2 separate regions of the Homo sapiens genome follow, and region 1 is linked to region 2. The links come from fine-mapping of genetic effects on gene expression. A gene starts in region 2. The other region holds a variant in brackets. All regions are shown on one strand. Distances are from middle to middle.

Region 1 (5,371 bases), 50 kb after region 2:
TTGTCATTTAAGGCTATTGGTATGTAGCAATTGTAATAGAGAACTCTACATTGTTCAAAAGAAGCAGTACACACACACACACACACACACACTCCCCTCTCCGTGCAGCCCCTGCACCCCCTCTTTCTCAACTCTCCCACAGCCAGCCTGGCCCTGCTCCTGGCCTGCGAGACCCCTGGGTCTCTTCCCCACCCCCATCCTTTCTGGACACTTTCCGCCTTATTCTTCCGGCAGCTATCTTGCTTATTTACCAGGGTCGTGTCTCCTTAGAAGGTCACATCCCCTGGTCCTGCCAGAGCGTGGCGCCTGTGGCCAAGGGGCACCCTCCCCAAGCTCACCTCCTCAAGACAGGCCCAGACTCTCCACATCTTCTGAGCCACATGAGCAAAGCACCTGCCATTTATAGAGGCACCGAGTCCTAACTGCAGGTCATATTTTCAGAGAACAGCCCTATTGATGAGTCTAGGAAACTAAACTCAAAAAGTGACGGCAAAAGTCATAGTTCCAGAAAGGTTGGCATGTGGCATTATTCCACTGCAGACAGTGACATCCAACCCACTTAGGTAGACAGATGCACCTTTTCGTGTGCGGCCATCATGGGGCACTGGAATTTTAAACCTTTATAATCTACTTTCCCCATTTTCCCTCAGTGAACATGGCTTGCTCTTCTAACTAAAGAAAGTGAAGGAGGGATATTTGTGGCATGTTTGTTTTTTGAGAATAAAATAATCGTTGCCTACAATACATGGGTTGATCTAAAACCCCAAGCAGTCCCCAGGCCCCCTCCCTCCCTGGGGAGTGGAAGTGCTTGGAATCCTCCTTGCTGGGACTCAGGGCTGGGCTCTTGCCTTCTAGGGCCACTCCGGTGAGGTGAGATCATGACAACTTTCAAGGTTCTCTCTGCCTTGGGAGTGAAGCCCTGTGGACTTTGCACGCCCACCTGGAACAGGCCTGCTGTATGTGGAACTGTGTCCCCACAAAAGGTATGTTAAAGTCCAAACCCCTGGTGTTGAAGATTTCAGTGTTGAAGCCTTCTTTGAAAATCAGGCCTTTCCATTTTCAGCAAGTTAAAATGAAGCTATGTATGTATACACACACACTTTATTTATTTTATTTTTATTTATTTATTTTGAGAGGGGGACGCTGTCTCACTCTATCACCCAGGCTGGAGTACAGTGGCGCGATCTCAGCTCACTGCAATCTCCGCCTCCTAGGTTCAAGCGATTCTCCTGTCTCAGCCTCCTGAGTGACTGGGATTACAGGCACCCGCCACCAGCCTAATTTTTCGTACTTTTAGTAGAGATGGGGTTTCATCATGTTGGCTAGGCTAGTCACAAACTCCTGACCTCAGGTGATCCGCCTGCCTTGGACTCCCAAAGTGCCGGGATTACAGGAGGTTTTTTTTGTTTTGTTTTGTTTTAAACGGAGTCTCACTTGGTCGCTCAGGCAGGAGTGCAGTGGCGCGATCTCGGCTCACTGAAACCTCCGCCTCCCAGGTTCAAGCGATTCTCCTGTCTCAGCCTCCTGAGTAGCTGGGATTACAAGCGCCCGCCACCACCCCTGGCTAATTTTTGCATTTTGGGTAGAGATGGGGTTTCACCATGTTGGCCAGGCTGGTCTCGAACTCCTGACCTCAGGTGATTCGCCCTTCTTGGCCTCCCAAAGTGTTGGGATTGCAGGCGTGAGCCACAGCGCCCGTCCAAAATGAAGCTAAATTTGATGAGAGTGGGCTCTACTCCAAGACCACTGTTGTCCTTGTAAAAGGAGAAAAGACAGACACAGGGACACAGGGCCATGTGGCCACAGAGGCAGAGACTGGAGTGACGGGAGACAAGCCCCGAACACTGAGGACCCTGTACCCCAGAGGCCAAGAGAAAGGCATGGAACAGATTCTCTCCCCCAGCCTTCGGGGACCTTGACTCTGGACTTCCGGCCTCCAGAACCGCGTCTGTTGCTTGAAGCCTCCGGGTCTTCGCGGTGCAGAGAAGCGCCAGGCCTCCAGGGCCTCGCCTCCCGCCGCCCGCGCCCGGCCCCGGGTCCTCCCTCGGAAGCCGCCTGTCTGTCTGCCGCCGAGTCCCACCGGGCTTCGGCCGGCACTGCCCGTTTACCCTCCGTCCCTCCCATCCCTCCCGGCTCCTAGAGGAGCTGGGTCCGCGTCTAGCTCCTCGGCCCTCCCCGCGCGCTCGGCACCGCGCACGGCCCACGCTGGACAGATGTCCCCGGCCCTCTCCCCGGACGCCCCCAAGGCCCCTGCCTTCCAGGCCGAGCCTCCGCTGCCGCCGCTTCCCCGCGCTCTGCAGTCCCCGCGGCGCTCCCGGGGCCGCCGCTCGGCCGTGGTGCTCGCTTCGCCCAGCAGAGGGCGGCCGAGGCGCGGGCCTAGGCGGGGCTGTCGCCGCCTGTACGGGGCGGGCGGAGCGGGGCGCGGGCGACCTGACAGCGAGGCCCGGCGGCGCGTCCCCACAGCGGCCTCCCGCCCCGTCCGGGACCGGGGCTGCGGGGATGACCCCTAGCTGGAGGCCTTGGCTGCCTTTTGCTCTTTTGTTTTCTGTCTGGTCCCCTGGAACCGGGGCCACTGGAGGCTCCCGGAAACGCGCAGGCGACATCTCCCCGACCGTCCTCATCAGAAGCCCACGGA[G/A]CCCGTCCCGCCCACGCGTCCTGAAGGCGTGGCTGCGGGTGCCGTGGTCCCCAGGTCCCGCGTCTGGCCGCGCCCACCTGGCATCTCCCTGGACGCCCCCAGGCGCAGAGACTGAGCCTCCTCCCGGCTGCAGCGTCGGTCCCCGGGCGTGGCCGCCGTTCCCTGTCCCCCGCGCGTGCTCCCAGGAGAGTTCAGTCCTCAGCGCCCGCAGCTGCACCCTCTCGGAGCCCCTCATTTACCCACCTGTATCCCACTCCCGACCCCGGAACTCTCAGCACCCAGGGGCCGCCCTCTGCATGGTGGCTGCCAAAACCCAAAAACCAGAAGTGGGCTTTTCCTAGTGCCTTTTTGAGATCTAAGTGGTGTTTCTGGCGGTTTGGGTTTTAAGGTGCCATTTTCTGTCTACTTTCTTTACTTTCTCGAATGACTTTTTCTTGTTATAAGTAACTACATGTTCAAGGTCAAAAAATGAGAAAACATAAGCAAAAAAGGCACCTGAAATCCCAGCTTCCATCAATAACTATAGGAATATTTTGGTGTCTGCTGCCACATTTTCCCCTCTGCGTGTGGGTGTGTGTACGGTGATATGTTATTTTTCCAAAATAGGGATCCCTCCCATCCACCTCGGCAATCTGCTTTTCCACAGAGCAAGGCAGTGAGAACGTCTCTCTGTGAACCACAGTGAAGACGCACCCAGCAGGGTATAGGAGCTGGGCCCGCTGGGAGGGCGAGTGTGGGCGGGGCATAGCCGGCAAACCCAGCCCACCCGAGGCCTGGCCAGGGGAGGGCCCTCCCTGTGAGCCTCCTGGGGGCCCATGGGCCCTGTTACCTACGTCGCCTTGGTTGGTGAGGTCTCATCCCTGGCTGCAGCTGCCGGGCTTCAGGGTGTCCTTTTAAAGAGCACCTCGAAGAAGAAAATCCCATCCTTTCCTCTAGTCCCGGAAGAGTCCATCTGCAGTTGAAACAACTCTGCCCTTTGTAGAGTGGCTCTTTCTTGTGTGGATTTAAATACAAGGAATACAAAACAAATTCATATTGACCCCAAGGAGCCCCATTCCTCCCTCCGCCTCCGGACAACTAGGGTGCCTCCAGATCAGCAGTTCTCAATGAGAGGCTGGGGGGAGGGGGTTGGTGGGTGGAGTTTTGCCTCTCTTCCCCCAGGGGACGTCTCTGGTATTGCCTAGAGACACTAAGAGGGTGCTACTGGCACCTCGTGGGTAGAGGCCAGGATGCTGCTAAGCATTCTGCCATGCACAGCACAGGTCCCCACGAAAAAAGAATTCACTGCTGAAAATGTCGGTAGTGCCCAGATTGAGAAATCCTGTCCAGATGTTTCTCGACACTCTTCCAGGGGTCCAGGAGCCCAGGAGTCCCGAAGCCTAGGTCTGCCTACAGCACCGTCCAAGGGGTAATGGCCCTGGCTGATCACTCCCAGGCCACGTCCATTAGCCCAGGACCTGAAACGACTGGCGACCAAGAAGGGCCAAGAGGTTGCAACTGCAGTCTGTGGAAATGAGAGGCCCTGGGCAACGGGGCGTCAGGGGAGGAGATGAATTCAGTAGCTGAGGCTCTGTTTCGTTTTGTTTCACTGTGCATGGATTCAGGTTGTTTCCTAAGGCTCTATGTGCCTCGTTTATGAGTCTTTCCTTTCAAAACAATTCAAGATGTCCCAGCATTTCAACCCTCTGACTGCAGAACTCCACATTGCTAGAGCTCAAAGGAACCTTTGACATTTTCCACTCCAACTGTCTCGTTTTCAGGGAGCCAGACCAAGGTTTATGCACAGCTTCAGTGCCTCAGTTTCTTCCTCAGTAAAATCACAAATAATGACATCTCTCTTTGGCCAGCCCCCCCCCCCCACCAACTCCATGCCTCGGGCACTCTCACACACATTATCTCTGATACATCTACCCTGGGAAGGAAGTTGCCCCTCCTATTTCCCAGGTGACAGCGCTGGGCACTCAGACTGCGGGGAACTGACCTATGACCACACAGCGAGCAGGTGGAGGAGGGGAACACCAGCCCTGGGTTTCTCTCGCCCTAACAGCGGACCAGGCCACGGGTTCTCAAGCATGGCTGCCCATCAGAGTCATCTGGGGAGTTTTAAAAATCCTGGTGCCTGTCACACCCCCTATCACTGTCATGGATATGTGATGGAGGCCAGGGAAGACTCAGCTTCAAGAAATGGTGAGATCTTTGAATATCTTCTTGGTACCAGCCCATATTTTTTGAATTGAGAACCATTAGGATTAGCTACAAATGAGTTTTCTTTCCATCTGAATATTGAGAACTGTGTTTTCTGGCTGCTCTTTCCTCCCTGGATGTTTGCAAAGTTGAAAAATCAGCTAAAAATATATGCAGGGGCCACACAAGGCAGGAAGAGTGAGCCCAAACATCCCGGCTCTGTGCGGGTGGCCAGGGCCAGCTGCTTCCCCAGGCTAGAGGGCGTAAGGCACCACATCTCCCAGGGATATTTGCATTTTCAGCAGAAACTCTGGAACATGGAAAGGTCTTCAGATGAACAGCATATCAGAAGGCAGCATTTCAGGCACCAAGAGGCCAAGGGAGGTGACTGGGTCTGCGGGGGGCTGCTACCTCACCTGCCTACCCTTGTGCAGTCTCTCCACAGCCCCTCTGCAAGTCTATCTGCTCATCTGTCTCTAAACTGCCTCAAACTTGAGACAAAGCATACAGAACCCTCTAGGCAGGGTAGCTTCTCTTGAGTTGGATGTACCA
Region 2 (5,371 bases):
TCTTAGAGCAGTGCAATTAATCAAATTGTACCCAAAGTACCCAACTGGGTGTCCTGTAGAGATATGAGACCTTGGGAAACATTGTCTTTAAAAAATGCTTTCTTTCAGCATTCCAACTTGGGATGCCTGGAATTTGGTCTTATCCCAGGGCCAGGGACTTCCCGTCCCAGTGTGTGGCAGGCTTCTGAGGCTCTGGAAACACCATCTCCCAGGATCTGGCACCAAGCAAGTCACAGGGCAGGTGCTGGGGGCTAGTGAGAAATGGGGCTGTAGTAGTCTCCACAAACAGGCCTTGACCAAGGAGCTCGCACCTCCTCCTCTCCTTGGTATGTATCCCACAAAGATCCTCAAAATGCAAATTTTGAGGCTGAAGTGTAAACCATTGGTTTGTGTCAATTGCCTTTTCAGTCCTGTGTATATTGGGAAAACAAGCTTTCAAGTAGAAAAAAGGAAGATTGCCTTTTACTTTGGGGATTTAGAAAGAAGATAGAGGTTTGTGAGCTGCAACATCCAAAACAAAGCAGACACCAGTTTCCTAGGATGTGCAGTTACTTTCAATGGAGACCAGCTCTGGAATGCAGGACTCTGTAATTTCCCTAGATTACAAGATCTATTATCTCCCTTCTGTTCCTTATAGTAAGCAGTGATATAAACCTTAAATTATTATTATTATTATTATCATCATCATCATCATCATCTTGAGACGGAGTCTTGCTCTGTCACCCAGGCTGGAGTGCAGTGGCATGATCTTGGCTCACTGCAACCTCTGCCTCCTGGGTTGAAGCGATTCTCCTGCCTCAGCCTCCCAAGTAGCTGAAATTACAGGCGCCGCCACCACACCCAGCTAATTTTTATATTTTTAGTAGAGATGGGGTTTCGCCATGTTAGCCAGGCTGGTCTCAAACTCCTGACCTCAAGTGATCTGCCTGCCTCGACCTCCCAAAGCACTAGGATTACAGGTTTGAGCCACTGTGCCCAGCTTAATCCTTAAAATGTTTCTGTCGTTTTCTAAGGGGACAGCAAAGAAGAGAGTGGAGGAATCTGCACTTTTTCTCCCTAAGCAGTCTTGGGAAAACAGATTTCCAAGTGCTAAAGTGTATGGTGTGGATTTTAAGAGGTGTAATCCATAAGAGGAAGGCACACAGAAGATGTTCTCGAAGTGGAATCCGTGGCAACAGCATCACCTGGGAACTTAGACATACACGTTCTCAGCCCCCACTGAGTCACAGACTCTGGGAATGGGGCCCAGCAAGCTGAGTGCAATAAGCCTTCCAGGTGATTCCAATATTCAAGTTCACACTTGAGGACGACTGGCACAGTGGATAAGGAAGGACCTGCTTTTAAGCCCTGTCTCTGCCACTTAACAGCTGTGTGAGCTTGAGCAAGTTAGTCTTTCTGAGTTTATGGAGAGGAATAAATGAGATAATGTACTTGAAGCACTTAGTGCAATGTCAGATATATAGAAAGCACTCAATACATGTTAGCAGCTATGGTTACTGTTATGTATGAGGGGAAGGAAAAAGGATAGGTCCTTCAACAAATTAGCACAGCATTTACCAGCTTAAAAGCCCTTTCAGATACTGACGTGTTTCCAGGAAATCCAAAGGTCACATACATTCTGTGTGATCTCATCCACACAAAAATTTGAACAGAGCAGTAGTTTTTTATCATCAGAAACCCCACGGAGCTTTTACATTCTGCCCTGCCACCCGCGGGCCTTCAGAGCTCTAATCTCCCGTGGTAGATAGACCTTGATAATCCATCATTTTTAAAAATCCCCATAGGCAATGCTGCAAAATAGCTACTGGAATCAAAGGTGGTAATAGTTAGAGCTAACATGTATTGAATATTTATATGTGCCAGGCACTGTGCTAACTTCTTTATAGATGTTGCTTCATTTAATTCTCACAGTAATCCTATGAGTTAGGTACTATCAGTTTTTGTGTGTGGGGGGGGCGGGATGGGGTGGATGGCAGAGTTTCACTCTTGTCATCCAGGCTGGAGTGCAACGGCTCGATCTCGGCTCACTGCAACCTCTCCCTCCCAGGTTCAAGCCATTCTCCTGCCTCAGCCTCCCGAGTAGCTGGGATTACAGTCCCGCATCATTAGACTCCGCTAATTTTTGTATTTTTAGTAGAAACGGGGTTTCACCATGTTGGCCAGGCTGATCTCGAACTTCTGATCTCCACCTGCCTCAGCCTCCCAAAGTGCTGGGATTACAGGCGTGAACCACCGCGCCTGGCCTACTACCAGTTTTTAAATTTTACAGGTGAGGAAACTGAGCTATAGAGGGGCTAAGTTACCCCAAGTTCACACACCTGAGAAGCGGTTTAGGACCCGAGCCCAGGTTTGAGCTATTAACTGCACTTCACTGACGCAAAAATGGATGCATTCATTTACTCATTCATCCAACATGCATTTGATGTTGGTAACCAGTTAATATCTGAAAGCTGGGGGATATAAACTGAACATAGAGTCCCATCTCCATCCTCAGGAAACTCATGCCCTCCGGTGATGGGGGGCAGGACAAATAGCAGAGAGACCGCCTTATTTTACAAGATGTCATTGTTCTCTGAGAGGCTGAAAAGATTTTCTATCACCACTAGCCTCCTCCTCTCCACGGCCATTTACAGAATGGGCAAACCAGCCTCCCAGCGGAAGACCAAGCTTGCTAGCGGTCAACGTTGCCGGCAGCTCTGCAAGCGCTTCCAGCGGGCGTCGCTCTCCTTTCGGGGGTGGTACTTTCATTCGGTCATCCTGTGAGTGTTCCACTTCCCGACGGAGGCCGAGCACTCACACCGCGGCGGAGGTACCCGTCACCGCAGAACCGGGTGGCTGGCTCTCCTCCAGGGAGAAAGCCTGTCACTTATTCCTCAACACTGTTGGGAAGTTACCTAGAAAAGTACAGACAGAAGACCTAGGCTTGCGTTTTAGAATCGTGGAGTGTTAGCGCTGGCCAAATCGTTGGACACAATGTAAGCTTGATCAGGAAAATGAGCTCCAGGGTCTCACAGGCGGGGCCTGGAATCTTGGCGCAATCTGCGACCCTCACTGCCTCCTACAGTCGGGGCTGAGCGTTCTTTCAAACAGCCAAAGTAATCACTTAAGTCCAGCAATGATCTCCTTGGAGAAATCAAAAGATCCTCCCTAAGAGACGGCCTTGGAGGGCATCGCCCCTGGGGCTGGGCACAGCACGTCTTCCCGGCCCCGGCGCGGGAGGAGGGTTTGGGGACAGCGGCCGCACTCCGGACCCTTCTTCAGATTGCACAGGAGGAGGCGGTAGCGGAACCTTTCTCCTCCGCCTGGTTCTCGCTTCCACCCGGGCCCAGTTGGGGACGGACGCACTAGAGGCGACCTAAACATGGAGACAGCGGGCGCTGCAACTGGGCAGCCGGCCTCTGGGCTGGAGGCTCCGGGGTCCACGAATGACCGGCTTTTCCTGGTTAAAGGTAAGATGTGCTGTGGTGAGGTGCGGGCGTCGGGGTGAGTTAACCCCGGACCCTGGCTTGCTCTGGAGCGGGCATTCCCACACACATCCCGCTCTGAGAGCCCTTAGCTTGTGCTTGCCCCTGAGTTTAGCCCGCGGAGTCTGGCGGCCCAGGGAGGGTAGGTCGCTTACTGGGTGGAGTCTCCCCTTGGGCGGGGCGGGGGGCAGATCCCGCGAGCTATTCTCCCGGGCGTGCCATATTTCCCCGTCACCTCTGCAATTGTTCTAGAGCCTTGCCTTTTCTGATTGCCATCGTCTCTTCTCCTCCCCGTGAGAAACTTCACGCTGTGGTCCCAGGGGAGAGGGGAAGGGAAGCTGAACCTTTTCTCTGCGCTCGGGAATAATAATTCGGAATGACCCAAGGAACCAGAGGTCGTGCGGTCACGCGTGTTTCTCAGCCGCTGTCATTTACTGTTAGCAAGAGCTGCTTAGCCATGGTTTCTTGAATTTCAAAAGTGATTTTGATTGTAACTCGAATAGTATCTTAAACTTACTTTTGTACATCTTTTTAACCTCTTTTTATTTAATTTTTTTTAATATCCCCCCTCCTCCCCGAAACTCTTGGCAGGTGGAATTTTCCTTGGTACCGTTGCTGCAGCGGGAATGCTAGCTGGATTTATTACAACATTATCATTGGCTAAAAAGAAAAGCCCTGAATGGTTCAATAAGGTTGGTGACACTGAAATCCATTCATAGCATTGTTATTGTTTACAATATATGGCAGCTTTTGCGTAGAAAAAATAAAATATTGATGGTCTTTCACATTGCTTTAAGATGTGAATTTATATACGCTCATGGATTCTAGAAATGTACAAATTAACCAAGTCTTTATTTTCATTTAGAAGGATGTACTTATGTGCTTTCTTAAATTTTAGCGGAACAAGACTTTGAAAGCTTATCTGGTACATTTCCTATTCACAACATGACTTTGAATCTAAATTTGGGCCAGGCATCGTGGTTCATGCCTGTAATCCCAGCACTTTGGGAAGCCGAGAGGGGCAGATCACCTGAGGTCAGGAGTTTGAGACCAGCCTGGCCAACATGGCGAAAACCCATCTCTACTAAAAATACAAAAATGAGCCAGGTGTGGTGTGGCACTCCTGTAGTCCTAGCTACTCGGGAGGCTGAGGCAGGAGAATCACTTGAACCCAGGAGGCTGAGGTTGTAGTGAGCCCAGATAACACCACTGCACTTCAACCTGGGTGACAGAGCGAGACTCTGTCTCAAAAATAAATAAATAAATATTCACACAAATAACTGTGTAATTACAATTTGATGTGTGCTATGGAGGAAAAGTGTTACGTAAAACATCATAAAAAGTCAAGTTTCCTTTCCACTTACATTTATCTTTAATAATCATACTTAAGCCTTATCGATACCATAATGGCAAGAGACCATGTTTAAAGTGTGCTTGGATCCCCTCTGAATGCTCTAAGCTTATATGGAGCTTCCTAAATCACTGCTATGGACCTTGTGGGTCATTTTCTCTCTATGTTATAGAATGTTTTCAGAGCAGAAATATATTTTGTGGTGGAAATCAGAGTAGTGCCTTAACAGTAGAGTTTTGGTTGATTTCTAAGCCTAAGTTATGTTAATCCTTGGCTCACTGATCTTTTTAATAATCTGATGAAAACTAGGGATTCTCTGGGGCTGAAGAGCGCACGTACACATATCACAACTTTCCATCCTATTTTGTTATTCTGAGATTTGATCATCACAGATGCTCTTCGGGGTCTAACAGTGGTTTTCAAACTGCAGTCCACAGAACCCTGCTGATCCTTGATCCTTGGGTCCATGAAGTCAGAACTATTTTCATAATGATACTAAGATGCTTGTACTAATGGTACAGAGGCAATGGAGAGTAAAACTGCTGATACCTTGGTC

What was found.
Region 1: its variant is fine-mapped to the expression of TMEM242 in whole blood (TOPMed, PIP above 0.99).

Annotation. Positions count from the first base shown.
Region 1 is chr6:157,271,859-157,277,229 of GRCh38, reverse strand. No RefSeq gene overlaps it. Among named protein-coding and RNA genes, the nearest start is that of TMEM242, 49 kb to the left of the region's middle. RefSeq lists silencers at 2,035-2,594, 2,795-2,884, 3,315-3,474 and enhancers at 2,269-3,100, 3,101-3,933. The variant G/A (reference allele first, on the strand shown) is at 2,636.
Region 2 is chr6:157,321,490-157,326,860 of GRCh38, reverse strand. It overlaps TMEM242 (transmembrane protein 242), which reads left to right and starts at 3,342. Exons shown (of 4, transcript NM_018452.6): 1 at 3,342-3,449; 2 at 4,056-4,156. The coding sequence starts at 3,362. It overlaps TMEM242-DT (TMEM242 divergent transcript), which reads right to left and starts at 3,227. Exons shown (of 1, transcript NR_187268.1): 1 at 2,384-3,227. It overlaps LOC105378076 (a long non-coding RNA gene), which reads right to left and starts at 630. Exons shown (of 3, transcript XR_943165.2): 1 at 1-630. RefSeq lists enhancers at 2,630-3,059, 3,240-3,579.